Linked DNA regions of Homo sapiens. The protein of the gene in region 1 purifies or fractionates together with the protein of each later gene. This does not show direct contact. Each region holds a gene or a part of one and is shown on either strand. Other genes may lie near its edges.

The links.
Region 2: the proteins of RAB2A (region 1) and SUCLG2 purify together in Homo sapiens (affinity purification with mass spectrometry; 2 studies listed by BioGRID, with this or other methods). This does not show direct contact.
Region 3: the proteins of RAB2A (region 1) and VDAC3 purify together in Homo sapiens (affinity purification with mass spectrometry; 2 studies listed by BioGRID and IntAct, with this or other methods). This does not show direct contact.

What each region holds. Positions count from the first base shown.
Region 1 is NC_000008.11:60,589,131-60,597,911, reverse strand, and holds part of RAB2A (ras-related protein Rab-2A), read right to left. Parts: intron 6,055-8,781; coding exon 5,943-6,054; intron 1-5,942.
Region 2 is NC_000003.12:67,497,613-67,505,503, forward strand, and holds part of SUCLG2 (succinate--CoA ligase [GDP-forming] subunit beta, mitochondrial isoform 2 precursor), read right to left. Parts: intron 684-7,891; coding exon 522-683; intron 1-521. UniProt on the Homo sapiens protein: GTP-specific succinyl-CoA synthetase functions in the citric acid cycle (TCA), coupling the hydrolysis of succinyl-CoA to the synthesis of GTP and thus represents the only step of substrate-level phosphorylation in the TCA.
Region 3 is NC_000008.11:42,400,989-42,406,437, reverse strand, and holds the end of VDAC3 (non-selective voltage-gated ion channel VDAC3), read right to left. Parts: intron 4,651-5,449; coding exon 4,423-4,650; intron 3,486-4,422; exon of another isoform or gene 3,348-3,485; intron 3,128-3,347; coding exon 2,977-3,127; intron 1,572-2,976; coding exon 1,514-1,571; coding exon of another isoform or gene 1,510-1,513; intron 1,068-1,509; coding exon 976-1,067; 3' UTR 501-975; downstream 1-500. UniProt on the Homo sapiens protein: Non-selective voltage-gated ion channel that mediates the transport of anions and cations through the mitochondrion outer membrane and plasma membrane.

The sequences.
Region 1 (8,781 bases):
GGTAAAGCTATTCACAGCATTCCCTAATTACCTCTTTTATGTCTGGAGAATCTGTAGTGATAGCTTCTGTTTTGTTACTGATAATTGGTAACTTGCACCTTTTCTGTCAGTTTTGCTAGAGGTCTGCCAATTTTACTGAAGTTTTTAAAAAATCCAGCTCTTTGTTTCACTGATTTTTGTTTTCAACTTAATTAATCTCTGCTCTTATCTTTAATATTCCCTCCTTTCTATTTATTTTGGGTTTTTCTTTTTTATGGTTTATTTTGCTTTGGGTTCTTGAAGTAGGAGTTAAAATTATTTTGAGACTTCTTTTCTTTTGTTTTTTTAAATTATACTTTAAGTTCTGGGATACATGTGCAGATTTGTTACATAGGTATATACGTGCCATGGTGGTTTGCTGCACCCATCAATCCATCATCCACATTAGGTATTTCTCCTAATGCTATCCTTCCCCTAGGCCCCCACCCCCCAACAGGCCCTGGTGTGTGATGTTACCCGCCCTGTGTCCATGTGTTCTCATTATTCAACTCCCACTTATGAGTGAGAACATGCGGTGTTTGGTTTTCTATTTCTGTGTTAGTTTGCTGAGAATGATGGTTTCCAGCTTCACCCAAGTCCCCTGCAAAGGACATGAACTCATCCCTTTTTATGGCTGCATAGTATTCCATGGTGTATATGTGCCACATTTTCTTTATCCAGTCTATCACTGATGGGCATTTGGGTTGGTTCCAAGTCTTTGCTATTGTGAACAGTGCTGCAATAAACATACCTGTGCATGTATCTTTATAGAATGATTTATAATACTTTTGGTATATACTCAGTAATGGGATTGCAGGGTCAAATGGTAATTCTGGTTCTAGATCCTTGAGGAATTGCCACACTGTCTTCCACAATGGTTGAACTGAATTACCCTCCCGCCAACAATGTAAAAGTGTTCCTATTTCTCTACATCCTCTCCACCATCTGTTGTTTCCTCACTTTTATTTTTTTTGAGACAGAGTCTCACTCTGTCGCCGAGGCTGGAGTGCAATGGTGTGATCTTGGCTCACTGCAAGCTCCGCCTCCTGGGTTCATGCCATTCTCCTGCCTCAGCCTCCCAAGTAGCTGGGACTACAGGCGCCTGCCACCACGCCTGGCTAATTTTTTATATTTTTAATACAGATGGGGTTTCACCCTGTTAGCCAGGATGGTCTCATCTCCTGACCTTGTGATCCGCCCACCTCAGCCTCCCAAAGTGCTGGGATTACAGGCATGAGCCACCGCGCCCGGCCGTTTCCTCACTTTTTAATGATTGCCATTCTAACTGGCATGAGATGGTATCTCATTGTGGTTTTGATTTGCATTTCTCTAATGACCAGTAATAATGAGTTTTCATATGTTTGTTGGCCGCATAAATGTCTTCTTTTGAAAAGTGTCTGTTCATATCCTTCGCCCACTTTTTGATGGGGTTGTTTTTTTCTTGTAAATTTGTTTAAGTTCTTTGTAGATTCTGGATATTAGCCCTTTTGTCAGATGGATAGATTGCAAAATTTTTCTCCCATTCTGTAGGTTGCCTGTTCACTCTGATGATAGTTTCTTTTGGTGTGCAGAAGTTCTTCAGTTTAATTAGATCCCATTTGTCAATTTTGGCTTTTGTTACCATTGCTTTTGGTGTTTTAGTCATGAAGTCTTTGCCCATGCCTATGTCCTGAATGGTATTGTCTAGGTTTTCTTCCAGGGTTTTTATGGTTTTAGGTCTTATGTTTAAATCTCTAATCCATCTTGAGTTAATTTTTGTATAACGTATAAGGAAGAGACTTCTTCTTTTCTATTGTGTGCATTTAATGATATACATTTCCCTCTCGTAACACTGTTTTAGCTATTTTCCACAAATTGGTATGTTGTATTTTCATTCAGTTCAATGTGTTTTTTGTAATTCAAGACTTGCTCACTGACACACAGAAGCGTACTGTTTAGTTTCCAAGTATTTGTAGATTTTCCTATTTTCTGTTAAACTGATTTCTAGTTTAATTCCATTTTGTTTGGAGAATACATTCCGTATGATTTCAATACTTTAAAATCTATTGAGGTTTATTTTATGGCCCAGGACACGGTCTATCTTGGTATATATTCTGTGAGCACCTAAGGGATGCTGAAGTCTCCAACCGTAATTGTGAATTTCTCTATTTCTCCTCGCAGTCTATCAGTTTTTGCTTCACATATCTGGTACACGCATGTTTAGCACTGTCACATCTTTCTGGAGGGCTGATTCTTTTATCATTATATAATGTCCCACTCTGATAATTTTTTTCTGCCCTTAAGTTTATGTGATATTAATATAGCTACTCCTGTTTTCCTTTGATTAATATTTGTATAACTTTTCCTATCATTTTATTTTCAACCTAACTGTACTGTTGTATTTGGAGTGAGTTTCTTATAAATACCATATAGCTAAGTCATTGTTTTTAAAATTCTCTCTGCTAATCCCTTTTGATTTGTGTATTTTGACCACCAACATTTAGTTATTGATATATGAGGGCTTACATCTGACATTTTACTTTGTTTTCTATTTTCCTTCTCCTGCCTTCCTGTGGGCTAATCAAATCCCTTTATTCCCCATGGCTTATAATATTGTGGAATACACTGATAATCACATCAGACAGTGGTTACTTGTTTATACTTCAAACATCAAACATAATTTGCAAGACTTGAAGAAAAAAGTCTATCATATTTATCCATATTTTTGTTTCTTATGTTTTTTTCTTCCTTTATGGTGTTCTAAGATTCTTTCTTCAATCATTTCACTTCTATTAGAAAACTTCCTTTAGCCATTCTTTTATGCAAATCTGCTACTAATAAATTCTTGGTTTTTCCTTCTCTAAGAATGTCTTGATTGCACCTTCATTGCTAATTCTTTTTTTTCTTTGCTGGGTAAAGAATTCTGGGCTGATAGTTCTTTTCTTTCTGCTCTTGCAAAACACTGTGCTACGTATGTTTATTGTGGCAGTATTCACAATAGCAAAGACTTGGAACCAACCCAAATGTCCATCAATGGTAGACTGGATTAAGAAAATGTGGCACATATACACCATGGAATACTATGCAGCCATAAAAAAGTTGAGTTCATGTCCTTTGCAGAGACATGGATGAAGCTGGAAACCATAATTCTCAGCAAACTATCACAAGGACAGAAAACCAAACACCGCATGTTCTCACTCATAGGTGGGAACTGAACAATGAGAACACTTGGACACAGGGCAGGGAACATCACACACCGGGGCCTGTTGGGGGTTGAAGGGCTGGGGGAGGGATAGCATTAGGAGAAATACCCAATGTAAATGATTACTTGGTGGGTGCAGCAAACCAACATGGCACATATATACCTAGGTAACAAACCTGCTCGTTGTGCACATGTAACCTAGAACTTAAAGTATAATAAAAACAAACAAACAAACAAAAATCACTGTGCTATTTTCTCTGTCCTCCATGGTTTCTGATGAGAAATCTGCTATCATTAGAACTGTTTTTCCCCTATACGTAGGGTGCTATTTTTTGCTGCTTTCAAGATTTTTTTTTCTGTCTTTCACGTTCAGAAATTTGACCATACAGAGGTTCGTCATCATGTGGATTTGTCTGGGTTTAACCTCTTTGGGGCTGTCTTCAATCTGTAGGTTTATATACTTTTTGCCACATTTAAGAAGTTTTCAGCCATTATTTCTTTGAGTATTTTTCAGAGCCATTCCTTTTTCCTCTCCTTCTAGGACTTATGATGCATCATATAACGTCAGCTTTTGTTACAGTCCTATAAGTCCCTGAGGTAGTGTTCATTTGTTTCCTCAATTTTCTCTCTGCAGTTTAGACTAAGTAGTTACTATTGTTCTATCATCCAGTTCACTATTTCTTTCCTTTATCTCCATTCTGCTGTTGAGTCCATTCACTAAGTTTTTTTTTCTAGTGTACAAAGAGCTTTGAAAGAGTTTTAAAATTTCAATTATTGTATTTTTTTTTATTTTAAAATTCCTATTTGGTTCTTTTTTTTATCTTGCATTTCTTTTGCTCAGATTGTTTGTTTGCTAAGACTCTTCTGTTTCAAGCATGTTCCTTGTTTGTTGAGGCATTTTAATGATTGCTGCATTAAAATCTTTGTAAGATAATTCAAACACCACTGTCATTTCACTGTTGGCACCTATTATCTTTTTTTCATTCAATTTAAGATCTTCCTGGTTCTAGGTATGATGAATGATTTTCTATTGAAACATGGGTATTTTAGATACTATGTTATGAGACTCTGGGTCTTATTTAAACCACTGTTTAGTTGGCTTCCTCTCACTCCACTCCAACAAGGGAAATGGTGGTGGTAGGGTGCTACTTCATTACTGCCTGGGGATTGTGGAAGCAGAGCCACAATTTTTTCTGTGATGTTTGGCTACAGTAGAATGGTTACTTTCTAAGAGTGTTCTGGCTTGCGAACACTGTTCTGACCTGCCTATTTCCTGGTTCTCTGGCTAGAAGACTTTCTTTTTCTGTGCCTGTTGACCTTTCTAGGTTGCCTGTTTCTCTAGCACCCAGTCTCGGGTATGTGGCAAAAAGAAAACCAAGGGAAATCATCACTGTGTCATTCCTCTGGCACCAAGGTCTACTAAGGGAAGTGTGTAGTAGGTGCAGTAGTAGGCTATGCCATCTAGGCTTATGTAAGTACACTCTATGATGGTCACGTGACGATGAAATCACCTGGTGACATATTTCTCAGAATGTATCTCCTTTGTCAAGCAACACATGACTGTATAATATTTTACCTAAGAAAGAATTCTTCGGTGAAAATACCAATGCTGTAGAATTACTGTAGTCAATTTTTAGGTTCAAGGGTTAATCAGAAGAGCTCCAAGTATCATTCTTAATAAATATTTACTGACTGCTTACTACATTGAAGGCACATGCTAGCTGTTGCCCAGGACCCTGACCTCTGTTATCCTTACGGCAGTGATTCTTAACTCATTTGTTTTTTAGAACTACTTTCTGTAGTTGCTCTTATAAGCTGTTCTTATCTAGAAATCGGGAACTAAGTATTACTTTGGATAAACTACTACTTTTCTTAGCTTCATTACCTCTTTTTATAAAATAACAGTATAGTAATACATTTACCTTAGAAAGGATCAACTACGTAATCATCTATTTATAATATGTATATACATACTACCTCCAAACACAAACACATAGAGCATAAAAGAATACACTGTGTTCAGAAAAGTTCCAATAGTTCAGGTTCATCAATGGAAATAACTGAAATAATACAAATTTCATCAATAGATGAAACAGAATTCTCATGCTTTGTAAAATGTTACACAGCAATAATAGAATACTTTAAGCAGAAGTGGTGATGTGGTAATATATTGACAGTTAAAAAAATAAATAAAATTAAAAAAATAAGCAGAAGTGGATATAAATAGCTACAAACGTTCTGCTGTCTTGAAACATTTCCAAATTTCATTAGTGTGGTTCCTTGTTTCCCTCCCATGCAACACAAAAAAGATTTCCCTACCATGCAACACGAAGAAGTCCAATACCTTATATCTTTGAGTACAGTGGGTTCCCAGAGAAGCCATTTTGCTCAACATAATTTGAAAGAATAGGACTACACTATTCTCCTCCATTGGCCAGACTGACTTTCTATGAATGTGATTAAAATATAACTCTCAGAAACTATAGGAAATTGTTTAGAAAAAGGGAGGGAGTGAAAATACGTACAAAAATGTAAGAAAACATTCAGGCTTTAGAAGGCTCAATATGATTTAAGAGTCTGACAGAAGGTGAATGTTACAAGGGATTTCAAAGGGAAGAAACTTTCCTACTTTATGATGTTCAAAGACCATCCGACTAAAAACTTAAATAATAAGTAAAATGAAGATATATAAAACATTTCTATTAAGTATAAAGATGAAGATTTTAAAGGGCCTCTTATTTACCTCTTCTACATTGGAAGCAGTCTTAGCAGACGTTTCCATGAAGATGAGTCCATGTTCTCGTGCAAAAGCTTCACCTTCTTCTTTTTTTACTTCTCTTCTAGATTCTAAATCACTAAACATGGGAAAGAAAGGGTCACATTACTAATCAACATGGTACAAACAGAAGCATTTGTGGAAAGTGTACCATGGAATTCAAAGTTGTGATGACCATTCTTTTAATTAATTTTTAACATACTAACTGTATTATTCAGGGTATTATGAGGGTTAGTATTTAGAACACACTGTCTAGTTTCAAAGAACTAACAATCCAACAGAAGAAAGATTCTGTGTTAGAGCTTTAGAACGTTAGAACTAGCCGTAACTTAAGGGAGCCTCTAGTCTAATACCTTATATCTTTGAGTACAGTGCATTCCCAGAGAAGAAAGCCATTTTGCTTAACATAATTTGAAAGAGCAGGACTATACTATTCTCCTCCATTGGCCAGACTGACTGAGTTTCTATGAATGTGATTAAAATACAACTCTCAGAAACTACAGGAAATTGTTTAGAAAATCCAAAGTACTAAAGATACATTACATCATTGATCCCAGTTTGTTTAATTCCCAGTTTCCTCTTAAAGCAAAATTGATATAGACAGAGAGAGAGAGGGAGGGAGGGAGGGAGAAGGAGTAGAGAGAGACAGAAAAGGAGAAACGGAGTGAGAGAGAAAGTGTAAGCTAGAAATTTCCAATGAAAGCAGGGTATTCATTTTTATCATACTAGAATTTTATTAGTGGGGGGGAGGGGAGGTAGCAGTTGCTTTTAAAGCGTGTTTTATTTTTAAAGTTAAAAAACTTTATTATTATATTTATTACTTTTTATATATTATTTATTATTACATGTTTATACATGAAAAAAGATGTATAATATAATGTCCACATACTTCCAGCTAGCCTTGACATATTATTTGCCAGATTTCAGGTTTCTTTCCCTTTAAGAAATAAAATCAGCAACAGCAGAATCACCACCTGTGTGTCTCTGATCCCACTCTCCTCCCTCTTACCCTAAAGGTAACCACTACCTAAATTTGGTGTTTTCATTCTCATGCATGTTTTTGCATTTATCCTCATGTTTATAACCATAAATAGTATTTCTTTTTCATGTCTTTAAAAATTCAGATGTAGCTACTGTTTTACAACTTGTTAACTTTGGTCAACACTATGTTTTTCAAATTTATCCATATAATACATGCAGATCTAGTTTGTTTTTAAACTGGTGAATTACAGTCTACTGAATGAATGCAATACAACTTAAATTCTCTATAAGGCAAAGTTATTTATAATTTTTCATTATTACAAACAATGTTACAATAAGCATTATATATATATGTATTATATATATATAAAATACATATATTAAAATATATGTATTTTACATATATATATAAAATATATATATATATTTGTGTATACACGTGCCAAGGCTTTTCCAGGGCAGTTTTTTTTTTTTAATTTTTTCAGAGACAAAGTCTCACTATGTTGCTCACGCTGGTCTTGAACTCCAGGACTCAAGTGATCCTCCCACTTTGGCCTTCCCAATTGCTAGGACTACAGGACTGAGACACTGCGTTAAGCCTGGGTAGGATTTTTCAAACTGTGTCATGACTCAATGAATTGTAAAAATCACTCAGTAGGAAATAATCAGAATTTTTTTTTAAAAAAAGAAACAATAGGCCGGGTGCGGTGGCTCACACCTGTAATTACGGCACTTTGGGAGGCAAGGCGGGTGGATCACCTCAGGTTAGGAGTTCAAGACCAGCCTGGCCAACATGGTGAAACCCCGTCTCTACAAAAATACAAAAATTAGCTGGGTATGATGGTGGGTGCCTGTAATCCCAGCTACTCAGGAGACTGAGGCGGGAGAATTGCTTGAACCTGGGAGGCGGAGGTTGCAGTGAGCAGAGATCGCGCCACTGCACTCCAGCCTGGGCGACAGAGTGAGACTCCATCTTGGGAAGGGAAAAAAAAAAGAAACAATATAAAATATCAGAGTCTATCACCTATATACATAAGTTCCATCTACTGTTTCATGGAACTTACGTATAAAGGTATAATTTACGAATATTTTGTTATATGTGTAGGTGTATACACAATTTATTTACTAGGTCATGATGTAAAATACATTTCTTACTATAGGTCAAATCAAAAAACTCAAAAGCCATAGTACTTGACGATATACTTAGTGCAAAGTTTTAAAAATACCTCAGTTTTCCAGGCATTACATCATATTGTTGTCTTAGTTCACTCCCTCTGAATCCCACTTAAGTTGCTTAGGTTACTTAAGTATCTTTCTTTTAATTTATGGCCCCTTTTTGTTTAGGGTTTGCATTACAACCCTTACACTATTAAAAAACTTTCATTTTTTAAATCTCTGCTTCCTATTTCTTATATAACCAATTTATTAATAAAATGCCATAGTAAGAAAAATTTGTGTCATCTGTTGCTCTGACTAGGTCACTGCCCTTCACTGGCTCCCTACTGCTTAATGCGTCTAATTCAAAAATTGCTTATTCCCTGTTTTGATGTCTATCCACAGTTCAATTCATCTAAAAATAATCATCTCATTTATTTCTCTCTGTTCTTTCTTGTTCGTTATACTCCTGATTTTAAAGGTCACCCACCTACGATCATCAGAAACATCTCGTTTACATACTATGCTTTGTTTATTTCTTCTCACATTTGAACTATCAGCTCCTAGTGGTCGGTGACCAAATTTAAGCCACCAGTAAGCTGTCACTCATCATGTTTCAGCCACAAGGAAAAAATTGGTAAAATAAAAGGATAAAAATTCTCTTTATTTT
Region 2 (7,891 bases), on another chromosome or scaffold:
GATAAAGGAATTTTGTTTTAAACCTAAATTTCAGAAGAGTTCTGCATATTAATACTGAGTTGAGCAGCAAAGGTTCTAATTTTTTACTAAGCAAAGTTTAACTGAGATGTTTTAAGTCAATATTTCTCAGTTGGGGTGATTTTTGCATACCACAGCCATTTGGAACTGTCTGAAGACATTTATTTTAATTTATTGATTTACATGGGTTTATTTGTCTTCACAAGTGGGGGTTGTTAGTAGTATCTAGAGGTTAGGATGCTAAACATCTTATGATGTACAGGACAGTAAAGAATTATCCCACCCAAACTCCCAATAGTGCCAGAGTTGAGAAATTCTGCTTTACACCAGTGACCATTAATCAAAACAACTTTGAGAAGAAACTTGGATACTTTCCTAAGACTTTTCAGCTACAAAAAAACTTATGTGCTTACTTCTTCTTGGTAAGTGACATTTCAGAAATCAAGGTTTCCTAAATTCTATAAGAATCCACAAAGCATTCTTTTGATATAACTGCTTCTTACCAAAGCAGGCAATGTTCCCATCTAGTCCTATGTATTTTAGATCATATTTGGCAGCTTCATTTTCAATGGGCTCATTCTCTGATTTGTCGTCCATAGCAAATATGTCTTTTTGTCGGAATTCTGCGTTGTCATCAAAGTTTATCTTGGCATCAAAACAGACAACTAAATAAAGAAGAAAACAATCATACTTGAATATCTCTTGAGGATCTATAAATTAAGTTCTTCAGGCTGGTAGGCACAAGCGAAGGGAAAGTTAAGTACTGTCATTTTTTTTCACATGTTACAGGCAGGAGAGGCTGCTTTGGCTTTCTTGACCTTTAAATTTTAGGGTTTGGTCCCTGTTGTCAAGGGACTTACGTTCTAGTAAAGAACATAGTAATTTCTACCTGTTGTTCTCATTTCAATAGAATAACCCCAAAAGTTGCCATCAACCATTAAAAGTTACAGACTGGCACAGCTTCATAGATACAGCTTTGATTCATTATTTTTATTATATATTTTTAGTATTTAACCACTAATTATCACCTTTCTCTTCTATGTAAAGAGAGACTAGACAATATTATTAATTATTTTGTCCCCTATTGTCCTTTTCTTGATATGGTAAAGTGAAATTTTTATTGAATCAGTATCCTGTCTAGTATTTCCAAAAGATTTAGTGGAAAGAATGCCAGACTAGAATCGCTCGATTTTTATTTGATCCTTAACTAACTCTGTAACATTTATTAAAAATAAAAATTGTATACACTTGAGTCTTGAACAACATGGGTTTGAACTGTGAGGGTCCACTTATAGCTGGATTTTTATTCTCAAGATGTAAAGCCCCAGAGGGTCGACTTTTCACATACATGGGTTCTGCAAGGCCAACTGCAGGAATTGTGCAATATGAACGAAGTTTGGTATATCTGAGATTCCTGGAACCGATTCCCTGCATATATTGAGGGACAACTGTGTATTTAAAGCATACAACATCATGTTTTGATATACATATAACACAGTGAAATAATTAAACACAGTGAAATGATTACTACACTGAAGCAAATTAACACATCCATCTTCTCATATAGTTTTTGGTTTTTCTTTTTGGTGTGGGAGAGCACTTAAAATATATACTTTTAGCAATTTCCAGCATACATTACTAACTCTGTAACCTTGATAAAATAACCTAGTTCTTCTCTGGGCCTTGGTTTTTTAATTGGAAAAAATGGCAATAACAATCCTTAAAACAAGGGCCATGCCCTTGATTCGTGCAGGACCATCTTATGGTGCTTCAGATTCAAGTTATAAGACACGAAAAGACCAAGACTGGTCAGTCACAAAGCCAGGATGCCAGGCATTATTAGCACAATTGTCTCTAGTTTCTGGAGCTGGTGGAAATCTCCTGGACCCAGCAAAACTCATTCCATAATAGGAGACAGACTACAGGGCACTTTCCTTGATTTACAGATCTCCTATACATACAATCAGGGAGAGACTGCAGTGGAGAGGGTGGCATTATTGGTATCTGGGTATCTGACCCCTTTTATTATCTCTCTTAGTGTAGAAATTAGTGTTCTGTGATGCCATGTCATCATAATGTTTGTTTGTTTGTTTATTTATTTATTTATTTATTTATTTCGGAGACAGAGTCTCACTCTGCTGCCCAGGCTGGAGTGCAGTGGCGCAATCTCGGCTCACTATAACCTCCACCTCCCAGGTTCAAGCGATTCTCCTGCCTCAGTCTCCCAAGCAGCTGGGACTACAGGCATGTGCCACCATGCCCAGGTAATTTTTTGTATTTTTAGTACAGATGGGGTTTCACCGTGTTAGCCAGGATGGTCTCGATCTCCTGACCTTGTGATCTGCCCACCTCAGCCTCCCAAAGTGCTGGGATTACAGGTGTGAGCCACTGCACCTGGCCAATGTTCTTTTACTTAACTTGGGATATTGATAGCCAGGAATCTTTGAACAATAATTTACAGATACTACCTATTCTCCTCCAGCATTGCTGACAGGCACCTGACTCTTGAAAGGGAAACAGCCACAGAACATTTCTCACTCACTGAAAAGCAGTGGCTATAATCTCCTAATTATACTTGCTTCTTATGAAAATAAAACATGGCTGTATATGGCATCTTGGCGTTAGAGACCCCAGGTAGAGGGTTTTCTCCAAGGGTTTCCCTACCACAATATTCAAGCACTTTGATACAAATCTGTGTAGACCAGCATATTAACATCTAAGAATACTTGTTATAAGTATATATATAGACCGCACATGACTTAAAGTAGCACTGAGCGACAAGAGAGAATCTTATATGGAAGTTAATGTCTGCTTAAATCCTTAGTCTTGCCCCAAAATGCCCAACCACTTTGTCCACACATTGTGAATGGTTGGAGTGAATGAGTAATTACTTTCCAAAATATTGAAAGCTTATTGACAGAATCCTACAATTACCAAACGAATTGGCCAATGTTCTCTGCTTGCTACAGGGGAATTTTCTCAGCAGTTAATGACTGGTATAATAATCAATAAAAAAGCAACTTCGTACATGGCTTTCCACTAGGTTTATAAATGCATTCTAATTAATTTATTAGTAATTTTAGCTCCTCCATTACTCATTGGCAAGACTACTTATAACTGACACCTTCAAAATGAATGGGCTAAGGTTATCAAATTGACTTCCTAAGGGAAGAGTTTCAAATAAAGGAATTCTTGGTTGAGATCAATAAACAAGTAAATCAAAATAGTTTCAAGCTGACCTTTGCTCCTTACAAAGACTACAGTTACAAGCTGCTTCAGAGAGAGAATAATTAATGGGTATGTATTCAAAGTTCAAAAGGCAATCCCAACTAAATGCCTGCAAAGCTAGATTTTCAGAGGATGTTTTTCTGTGGTATGACGTTCTCTCCAGGGAACAATCTTGACAGAACTTTGCAGTTAACCCAGAGCTTCAAGATGGTGACTATGGGATAAAAGGGGTGTATATCTACAACGGTCCTGTGCCGACTGTTAATTTGTAGAGAAAACTAAACAACCTAATTGGATCATTGCATGTATGTCTAAGTGTTTTGGGAAGTTAAAAACACTACCTAAATATGAAGTAATTTATTTAGAGGACTTAGGACTTAAGAAAGGGGATTCAAATTGAACTGCCACCTTCAAGACCCCAGTCTTTACTTAGTGGGTAAGGGAAGAAAAACTTTAAGGATGTAAAGGGATTCTTTCAGACACATATTTGTTACGCCTGTTTTATATTTTAAAAGTAGTCTGTGATACTGTGATTTATAATAAATATATTATTTTGGTCTTCATCCCTAATTCCTAGCATAGAGCTCTAAAACCCTTGTGATTTCCTAAGCAATAGGGGTGCTAGGAGAATCTTGTGTTCTAACATTTGGCCTTTGACCCTGATTCCTGATGCAGAGCTCCTAATCCCTTGGGATTTTCTGGGAGATAGGAGAGTCTTTTGTTCTATTAAGGTAAGTCTTGGTGGAGGCTTCTGTATGGGGCTGGTCGCCAGAAAGACCAAACTATGATTAGAAGCTTGGAAATTTCAGCCCCACCTCCATGCTCCAGAAAGAATAACAGATCATCCCTATGTAATAAAGCCTCCATAAAAATTTCTCAACTCCAGGGGACTGGAGAGCTTACAGGTTGCCAAACACAGGGAGGTGCTACAGGGTGGCTCACCTGTGGAGTACAGGGAAGCTTGTCACCCCTTCATGCATACCCTGCCCCATATACCTCTTCATCTGGCTATTCCTTTGTATCATTTAAAATATCCTTTATAAAAAAATAAGATAAAAAATAAAATAACCTTTATAATAAATCAGCAGTAGTAAGTAAAGTGCTTCCCTGGGTTCTGAGAGCCATTCTAGTAAATGATGGGGCACAAGGAGGGAGTCCTAAGAACCCCCAATTTACAGCTGGTTCATCAGAAGTACCAGAGGCTTGGTCTTACAAATGACATCCAAAGTGGAGTCAGTCTGATAAGACTGACCCCTTAACCTATGGGATCTGACTCTAATTCCAGGTAGATGGTAAAAGAATTGAATTGAATCATAGGATACCTAGCTAGTGTCAGAGATTAGTCAGTGTTGGAAAAACTCACACATCTGGTCCAAGAAGTGTTCTTCTGTGTTGAGAGTTTGGTAGGAGAAAAATGTTTGTTTTTCCCTATTATACATAGTACCAAACAAACAAAGTGCTTTCCTATCTTACTATCTACAATGTTGTGCCATCTAAATGATTTTCCTTGAACCTGACCACTTAATATAGACTGGCATCAAAAATATCAGGGTATAAATGACAACTCCTGGCACTTCCTAGCCAGCTATCCTTAAGCACATTAACCTCTCTTAAACCCGAGCCTTGTCTATACAATGGGGATCAGAGTATGTTCTACTCTAGGTGTTGGTGGCAGGAGAGATTGTATGCAAAGCGCTTAGCTTCCTAGACAGTGGGTACTAGCAGGTTGTTAGACGACCACACCACCCTCTAATATGCACATGCTTTTTTATACTTAAGAGCTTCCCATTATTGTAGCCCAGGCTACAGAACTCTCCTCTCTTCCTAACAATAAAAATTATCTGTTCCTTTATAATCTGAGATTTCTGTTTAGAGCAAATCTAAGCAAATGTCTCCCATAGTTTACATATGTACAGGTTACCCATGGTTTTCAATAAAAAGCCATCTTCTGAATGAATAAGAATTTTCCCAAAGGAAGAATATTAATAGTTGGCATTTTAGGCATCATAAATAGTAGAAAACAAGATTTTTGGCTAAAAGATAAGGGTAAAATAGGCTGTTGGTGACTCTCAAATCACATCACACCTGTGCATAAGGCCAAGGCTAAAGATTGGTACAGAATAGCTCCAAATGAAGATCTAAGCAAAGGGTAGCAACTAAGACCCTCAAGCCAGCCCTATTTTTATGAATAACAGATTGGAACATAGCCTCGTTCATATTGCCTATGGCTGCCTTCCCAAGACAAAAGCAGAGGTGAGTAGTTGCAATACAGACTGTATGGCCCGCAAACCCCCAAATATTTACTAACTGGTCCTTGACAGAAAAAGTTTGCCAATCCCTGCTAAGTCACAGTTCTCACACTTGTATCCACTTGTGTGAACCAAGTGATAGATACACAGGTGTCATATTTTATAGTGAAGGAGAAACTTAGAAAAAGTGCATTCCATTAACATGAAAACCAAAAAAAAAGTAAAATAACAAAGAAAATAAATAAAAACCTGTGGCTACGCAAAAGGAGTAGATTAATCCTGGAATACTAACTGACTCTTACATGCTTATTTCCTCCTGTAAGACGCTTCTAAATGCACTTCTTGAATTGACGTGTTAAAAATGGATTGATGTCTATGTCAACAGCAGGGCGATAAAATAAACTTGCCTGCTTAAACCCTTAGCTTTCTCATTTAATAAAACAACAAACAATACAAAATGCATTTTCAGAGGTGCTGAGCTTGGTCCGGACCTTAAGATTGTCAACGTCACATTAATGAAACTCAATTCTAAAGAAAATTCATCTTGAACAAAGGCCATTTTTTATACAAAGTGGGTGAAAGAAACATACCTATTAATATTTATAAAACAATTTTCACCATCAAAAGCACATTGTTACATGCTTGATAGATTATACAAATGTATTTTCCTTCTGAACGAATATCAAAGAAAGCTGTGGTACTTATATGCATAGGGTGTTTTGTTGTTTTGTTTAGTGGCGTGAGATTCTGTGAGCTGCTAATTCAACAATCTCGATAGAAAACATGACTGGCAGTTAGAGGCCTCTGACCCTAGAATTTTAACAGAAGAATGTGTCACAGAATTAAACAAAAGAAGAATACATTTCAGAGGGGAAACTTACACATAAAAGGAACATAAAACAGCAGGAAATAAGACTATCATAATTAGTTTGAAAAATAATCTGTCTTCAAGCAACGTACTGCGTTTGATTTGTGATAAATAACCATAATGTACTATTGAAACACGCCTTGCCAAAATGGCCTTAAAATGCTGATACTTTCAAATTAGTCCCACTTCCCATTAAATATTGATGTTCTGAGAGTTGTATACTTTTTAGAACTTTTTTTTAGTGGCTGTGAAAAGAGAAAATAGGTATGGGGTGGGTAGGGGGGTTGGGGGAGGTAGAGAACCGAAAATGTTCTTGAAAATAGAGTCTTGTGTATAAAGACAGAAACAGAGAAACACCCACCAACAACATGGGCACTTGCTAACAAGAAGCAACGGGGTGGTTATTTAGGGAAATCAATCCGAAGAAAGAAAGGAATTTGATGTGCCAGTTAACTGTGGATCACCCAGCTTTAATTCTCACGGAATCTTAGCCAGATAGTCACTGCTTCAAATTGGATCTCATTCCTTTGGCCCAGTGAATGGATTTCAGCTTCCAACTGATGAAGATGCCCCAAAGCAAGAATTCTTAATCTCTAGACTATGGACAGATTGGGTGAGGTCGTTCTCTGTGAACAGGGACCATCCTGTGCGTTGTAGTTTAGCATTATCCACGCCAGTAGCATAGCCTCCAAGTTGTGATGACTAAAAATGTTCCCTGGGGGACAAAATGCCCACCCTTCCCATGGAGTACAACTTGCTTTAAAGACATCAGAAAAAGGAGTCTGTGTACAGATAGAGCTGGCTGAAGGTGAGAAGAAATATGACATGAAATTTCACAGTGGCTAGCAAAATGAATGAATGAATACATGAATGCGCAGGTAGATAAATAAATAAATAATGATAAAACATTGCTTCTTGCTTGGCTGCAGAATTAATGAATGAATTGGCACTGCATTTGGACAAACAAGGAAAATAACGATTAATTTCTATTGACTAAGTAACAGTTTATTTTTGTTTCAATAAGGTTGCATCTTTCTGGTAGGCATGTTTTGACTCAGTGTCCCTTCTTCCATTAAGAAACTGTATGTCTCCTATACCATATGATTCTTGCTCAGTGGCTGGCATGGGCATAGACATGTGACCCAAGCAGGGTCAATGAGAATCATTTGAAGGGATTTATGGGGCTGCTGAGGGAGAGTTATGGAGCACTGGGAGCCATCTTTGCTGCCAGCTTCTGAGAGCCTGGCTGAGAAAGAAGCCAATTTGGAGGCAAGCAGGGCTGGAGAACCAGCAAATCCCTGATTCTCTTCAGGCCTTAAGCCAGTCCACACCTTAGACTTCCCTGTTACAGGAATATAACTTTTTAACAAAAACAAAGCTAATATAACTTTCTGTCATTAGCAACCATTATAATCCTAGCTAAGAGTCACTAAACTACATTGCAGTTAGTAGTGTCAAATTATATTTTTTGAATCAGATTATTAATCACATAGGAAAAAAGAGCTCTTGGACTGCAGTTCTTTCTCCG
Region 3 (5,449 bases), about 18 Mb from region 1:
AAAAAAAGATTTTCAAAAGGAGTTCTACTTTTAGGAAGATGATTTACCAGTGAGCCCTGAGGATTTTATAGTCTGCTCATTTCTTCTCTAAACTGGTACTTCATTCCTTGGTTATCATTTTTCTATACTAGTAATCAAAAATCATGTTTCTGAAGCCCAGGAGGAGTCCCAGAAGTGTCCACCCAGCTCTGGCCTCCTCCCACCGTCTCTCCTCCCCATGCTTCCCCAAATGCACTCGTCCCTCAACTGTCTTTTCACCCGCTCACATCCACACTTTCTCAGCAGCTGCACACAACTCCCGGGGTGAAGCAACCCTGTCACACCACAAGCACAACAGATGTGCCACTCCCCAGCACAACCATGTTCACTGCTTCCTTCCTCAGCCTGCCCTGTGAGAGCAAGAGAAGAGCAGGGGTCAGTGAAGTGAAAGGGACAGACGGCAGCCCTGATACTTTAGACACAAATCTCGCCTGTGAAAGTGCTTCTTAAAACAAATCACATCAAGGTAAGAAAACCATCACCAGCAAGTCACATGAGCAGTTATGTTCCAAATGTGATGGGTTTATTTTATTTTACTATGATGCAAAACCAAAGATTCCACTATAGCACAGAGACCAGTATATTACAAGGTCATGAAAAAATGGTGTGGGACATGCAGGACGTGATGTACAAACTGGTGGGTCAGATCGTCTCCTCTAACATGACGCTACACTGTCGCTGAGGAACACATTTAATAACACTTCAGAACTGAACTGAAACGTGGCACAAACATGACAACTTCCAGGCATGCCTTCAAGCATCTCCCTCAGGAGGGATTCGCAACCCCTAGACTTCAGTGTGGGGAGGATTACAATTCTTTGGAAGAATAAAAAGTTCACACTTTTGAAATTTCACAGAAGAATTTTAAGGCCAAAACATAGTGGGTTCATTTCTCTTCACTTCCAGGGACAAATCTGATGCTTTCCTCAAACCACATTAAGCTTCCAGTTCAAATCCCAAGCCAACCTTGTGACCTCCTGCACTGAAGTTCTTCCCATCGATTAAAGCTGATAAAGTCAATTTGACTCCTAGGAAGAAGAAAACACCACAATCACTTGAAACAAGTATTACAATTAGATCTGAACTTTCTAGAAACAACAGATGGAATCAATGGTGTGGATTGTAGCTGGGTATACGAGCTATAAGCAAACAGCTATTACTCAATCGGTTATTTATAACTATCTGATGTGTAATGAGGAAAGCATGATCATGGCAAACTTTCTCTGAAGTTCAGGGTTAAGGGCAATGAGTGATCAACCAAACTCAAAGGCCAAAGTGACCACATTATAGTCAGAAATACATACTTTTTTAATGCAAAAGTATTTGATCTGTATTGTTTTCTGTCTGAACAACCAAATGTTACAAAATGGTCCAAATCAACTTACAGTGACTACAGGTTGTTCTGCAGGTTATTTTCATTGTTTTCTCTATCACCTTCCACCTCAACCCCTCTGTTACTAATTCCTTTACTTACCTGGTCGAAGGGTCTGAGTATAACCCAGTCCAATCAGGCTGGCATTATTTACTTTAGCCTAAGATTAAGAGATAGAATAATAACAGAAAACAGTGAATTACAGATCAGTCCAATATAACCATCACTTTGTGCATTAGGTTTCCAATGCTAAAAGCACCCTAGGGCCAATCTAGAATTACTGATTTTTTTTTTTTTTTTTTTTGAGATGAAGTTTTGTTCTTGTCACCCAGGCTGCAGTGCGATGGCACGATCTCGGCTCACTGCAACCTCCGCTTCCCGGGTCCAAGCCATTCTCCTGCCTCAGCCTCCCAAGTAGCTGGGATTACAGGCATGCGCCCCCATGCCCGGCTAATTTTGTATTTTTAGTAGAGACGGGGTTTCACCATGTTGGCCAGGCTGGTCTCAAACTCCTGACCTCAGGTGATCCCCTGCCTCAGCCTCCCAAAGTGCTGGGATTACAGGCGTGACCCACCGTGCCCAGCCGGAATTACTGATTAAGAAGTCAGTAGGACTTGTAGGGGTAGGACGTACCCTGAGAATGCATGCTTCAAGGCCTCAAGCAAAATTTTTAAACACTACACAACCAAACACCCTGAATTCTCTGAGATACCAGCTGACAATCTCTCACAGTGGTTACGGCATGAACTTGGGTGACAGAAAAACAGACCTAGGTTCAATTGTGGCACTGCCAGTTACTATGTGACCTTAGGCAAGTTAGCTGACCTTTCTAAGGCTCAGTTTTCTCATCTGTAAAACAGGGATGAGGATAACACTAATCGCCACATGGAGTGGTTGTGAGCGTTAAATGACATAATATACATAAAGCCCTTAGCACAGTACATGAAATTTAACAGCTCAGTGTTATTTTTAGTAAGAGTTACTATAGCAACAGAAATAGTCATCTAATCCCATGAATTTCCAAATAAGAAAATTCTGAGGCCAAAGTGATAAAATGACAAGGTCAGACAACAGATATACAGGAAGAGCTAGGACTAGAAGAACCCCTATTTCCTGACGTCAAGCATAATTTTTTTTTTTTTTTTTTTTGAGATAGGCTCTCGCTCTGTCACCCAGGCTGGAGTGCAATGGTGTGATCTTGGCTCACTGCAACCTCTCCATCTGCAGGGTTCAAGCAATTCTCCTGCCTCAGCCTCCCTAGTAGCTGGGACTACAGGCGTCACCTACCACGCCCACCTAATTTTTGTATTTTTAGTAAAGACAGGGTTTCACCTTGTTGGCTAGGCTGGTCTTGAACTCCTGACCTCAGGTGATTCATGCACCTTGGCCTCCCAAAGTGCTGGGAATACAGGCGTGAGCCTGGCCACATTATATTCCTTTCACTACACAATGAGCTGGCTTATTAAAATTAATAAAGAACAAGCAAACTACACTCATATCACAACATTCTCTGAAAACTTAGACACAAACATAAGAGCAGATCCAATCTGGCAGCACATTCTTACAGAGAGAGAAGTTCTACAATCCAGCATGTACTTAGCAGCAATGCCAAAACGGGTGTTGTTACTCCCAGCTGTCCAAGCAAGGTTTATGGATGTTTCAATCTTCTCATTCACCTTCTGGTAGATAGAACCTCCAAATTCAGTGCCATCGTTCCTGTTTTCATAGATAAGAAAACGTCATAAATATCTAGTTTGTACCATTGTTATTATGGTATGAAAACAAATTCTAAGACTATCTAAACAAGGATCCCATTTTGTAACTATAGATTTCAGCAAATTTCTAGCATAAATGACTACTAAACAAAACACAGAACTAAATCCAGCTATGCCAGTAATGACTGCTTAATTAAAACGTTAACACTTGATCCATTTACTTGGCTCCTCCACATGATGTGAGTTTCTTAAGACAATTCAATTAAGCACAAAGGCAGACACCTCGGGTAAGTATAATCTATAGGTCTCTGAGAAGTTCATAGAACTTAGAAACTTCAAAGTAGAGTTCAATAAAGATTCTGCAAAAAAATAAAAAGGTAGAGGTATAGGAATAAAACCAATTCTGGATTTCCTTTAAAACACAATCCTACAGTTAGAAAGCACCCTCCTACGATACCTAGGGTGCACTGCTCCAGAAAACCACCTTAGTTATTGCTTCCAAGCATGCCAGAGGTGAGTCCTTGGGTTTTCACATGGTTTTCCTGATAATACTGTTTCATCAATTTCAGTAACTGTCTATACCACTGCTTGCCTTTGTTTTAGCCATCATAAGTAAATTAGAGCATCTAGCAGAGAGGAATCTGCAACAGTTTAAAAACACATAGTTTGCCCTTTGCTTTTTCTTCCTGGTATAGTAGCAGTGTCCAGTAGGCTCAACATAAAATACTACGTAAAAGTTCTGATTCATCCCACCAACATGGTGCAGCCTACATAACTGAATCCCAGGACTCTTTCAGAGCACCTGTTACTTCTGAATGCATTAGCGGTACCTGGGTTCCAACCGAGAATACCAGTACCTGAAACCTCCACAGAATTACCGGGATGTCCCAGGATGCTCAGATCAATTTGGTGGTGGTTGTTGGTGACCAAAACAGACCTGCTTCCAGATACTGTCAAGATGAGAGGGCAGCAGAGGAAGCAGTAACATCTCCAAAGGGTCATCTTACCATGAGGTAAGCCATGCTCTGGGCTCCCTCTATCCCAGTGGTTCTTCTACAGAGGCTGGAGCTTCCTCAAGTTTGGGGTGCAGGCTGAGGGGCCAGTGACCACCAGCAGCACAGCCTGCACACCACGTGCACCAGCCTCCTGGCAAGGTTTTGCTATGAGGATAGCACCGCAAGGATGGATATTCACCAAGGCATGCTAAATCTGAGTACCATCACTTCTCAGCATGCTAATGGCTACAATATTTTGGGCAACTGCACTGATACTAAGGAATAAATTATAAACACTCACACATGTGTGTGCAGCTGGAAGTCCGCAGCCTTGTAACCCAGGGCGAAATTATTCTGTGACAGTTTGGATTTGGCTGTGTCAAAACTCATCTGATAGCCAGCAAGCCACCCTTCGAAGGCCAACACAGCCCAGCCATAGATGGTTGGTCCAGAAAAATCTATATCAACATTACTGCCAACACTAAAACAATCCCGTTTATAGGAGGCCTTCAATTTCCCACTCTTCTTTCTGCAATAAACAAACAAACAAAAGCAAATGATGAAAACAACATGAGTTCTTACTACTGTCTAGGAATTTTTAGAGTAAGATCCTCTCTCTCATCTCCCAATGTAAATATTATTTTGGTACATGCCACATATATAGTAAAAACATTTCAAATGACCTAGTTCTACAAATATAATTTTGTTAGGATTAGACATGTATAGACTACTATCATCTATTACTCATTATAAGTTCAAATGATAGGATACTTCATGATTTATTTCATAAAAGCATGAACAAAAGTATAAGAATGAATAAGAGGCTGGGTGTGGTGGCTCACACCTGTAATCCCAGCACTTTGGGAGGCCAAGGTGGGCGGATGACGAGGCCAGGAGATTGAGACCATCCTGGCCAACATGGTGAAACCCCGTTTCTACTAAAAATACAAAAATTAGCTGGGCGTGGTGGCACACGCCTGTAGTCCCAGCTACTTGGGAGGCTGAGGCAGGAGAATCACTTGAACCTGGGAGGCAGAGGTTGCAGTGAGCCAAGATCATGCCACTGTACTCCAGCCTGGCGACAGAGCGAGACTCGTCTCAAAAGAAAAAAAAAGAATGAATAAGATATTTCAGTGCCAAATTAATAATCTGAAGGTGTATGTATACAGACGTACAAGAAGCCAAATCTCTTTAAATGTTTCCAAATGCCAAATGCCACAAAGAATTAATCCCCAATATACATTATTAACCTATCATGGAGAGAAGCATGCTTTTTTGAAGGACAATACTGAAAAAATGAAATTAGTTCTTAATAACCCTATTCCAAT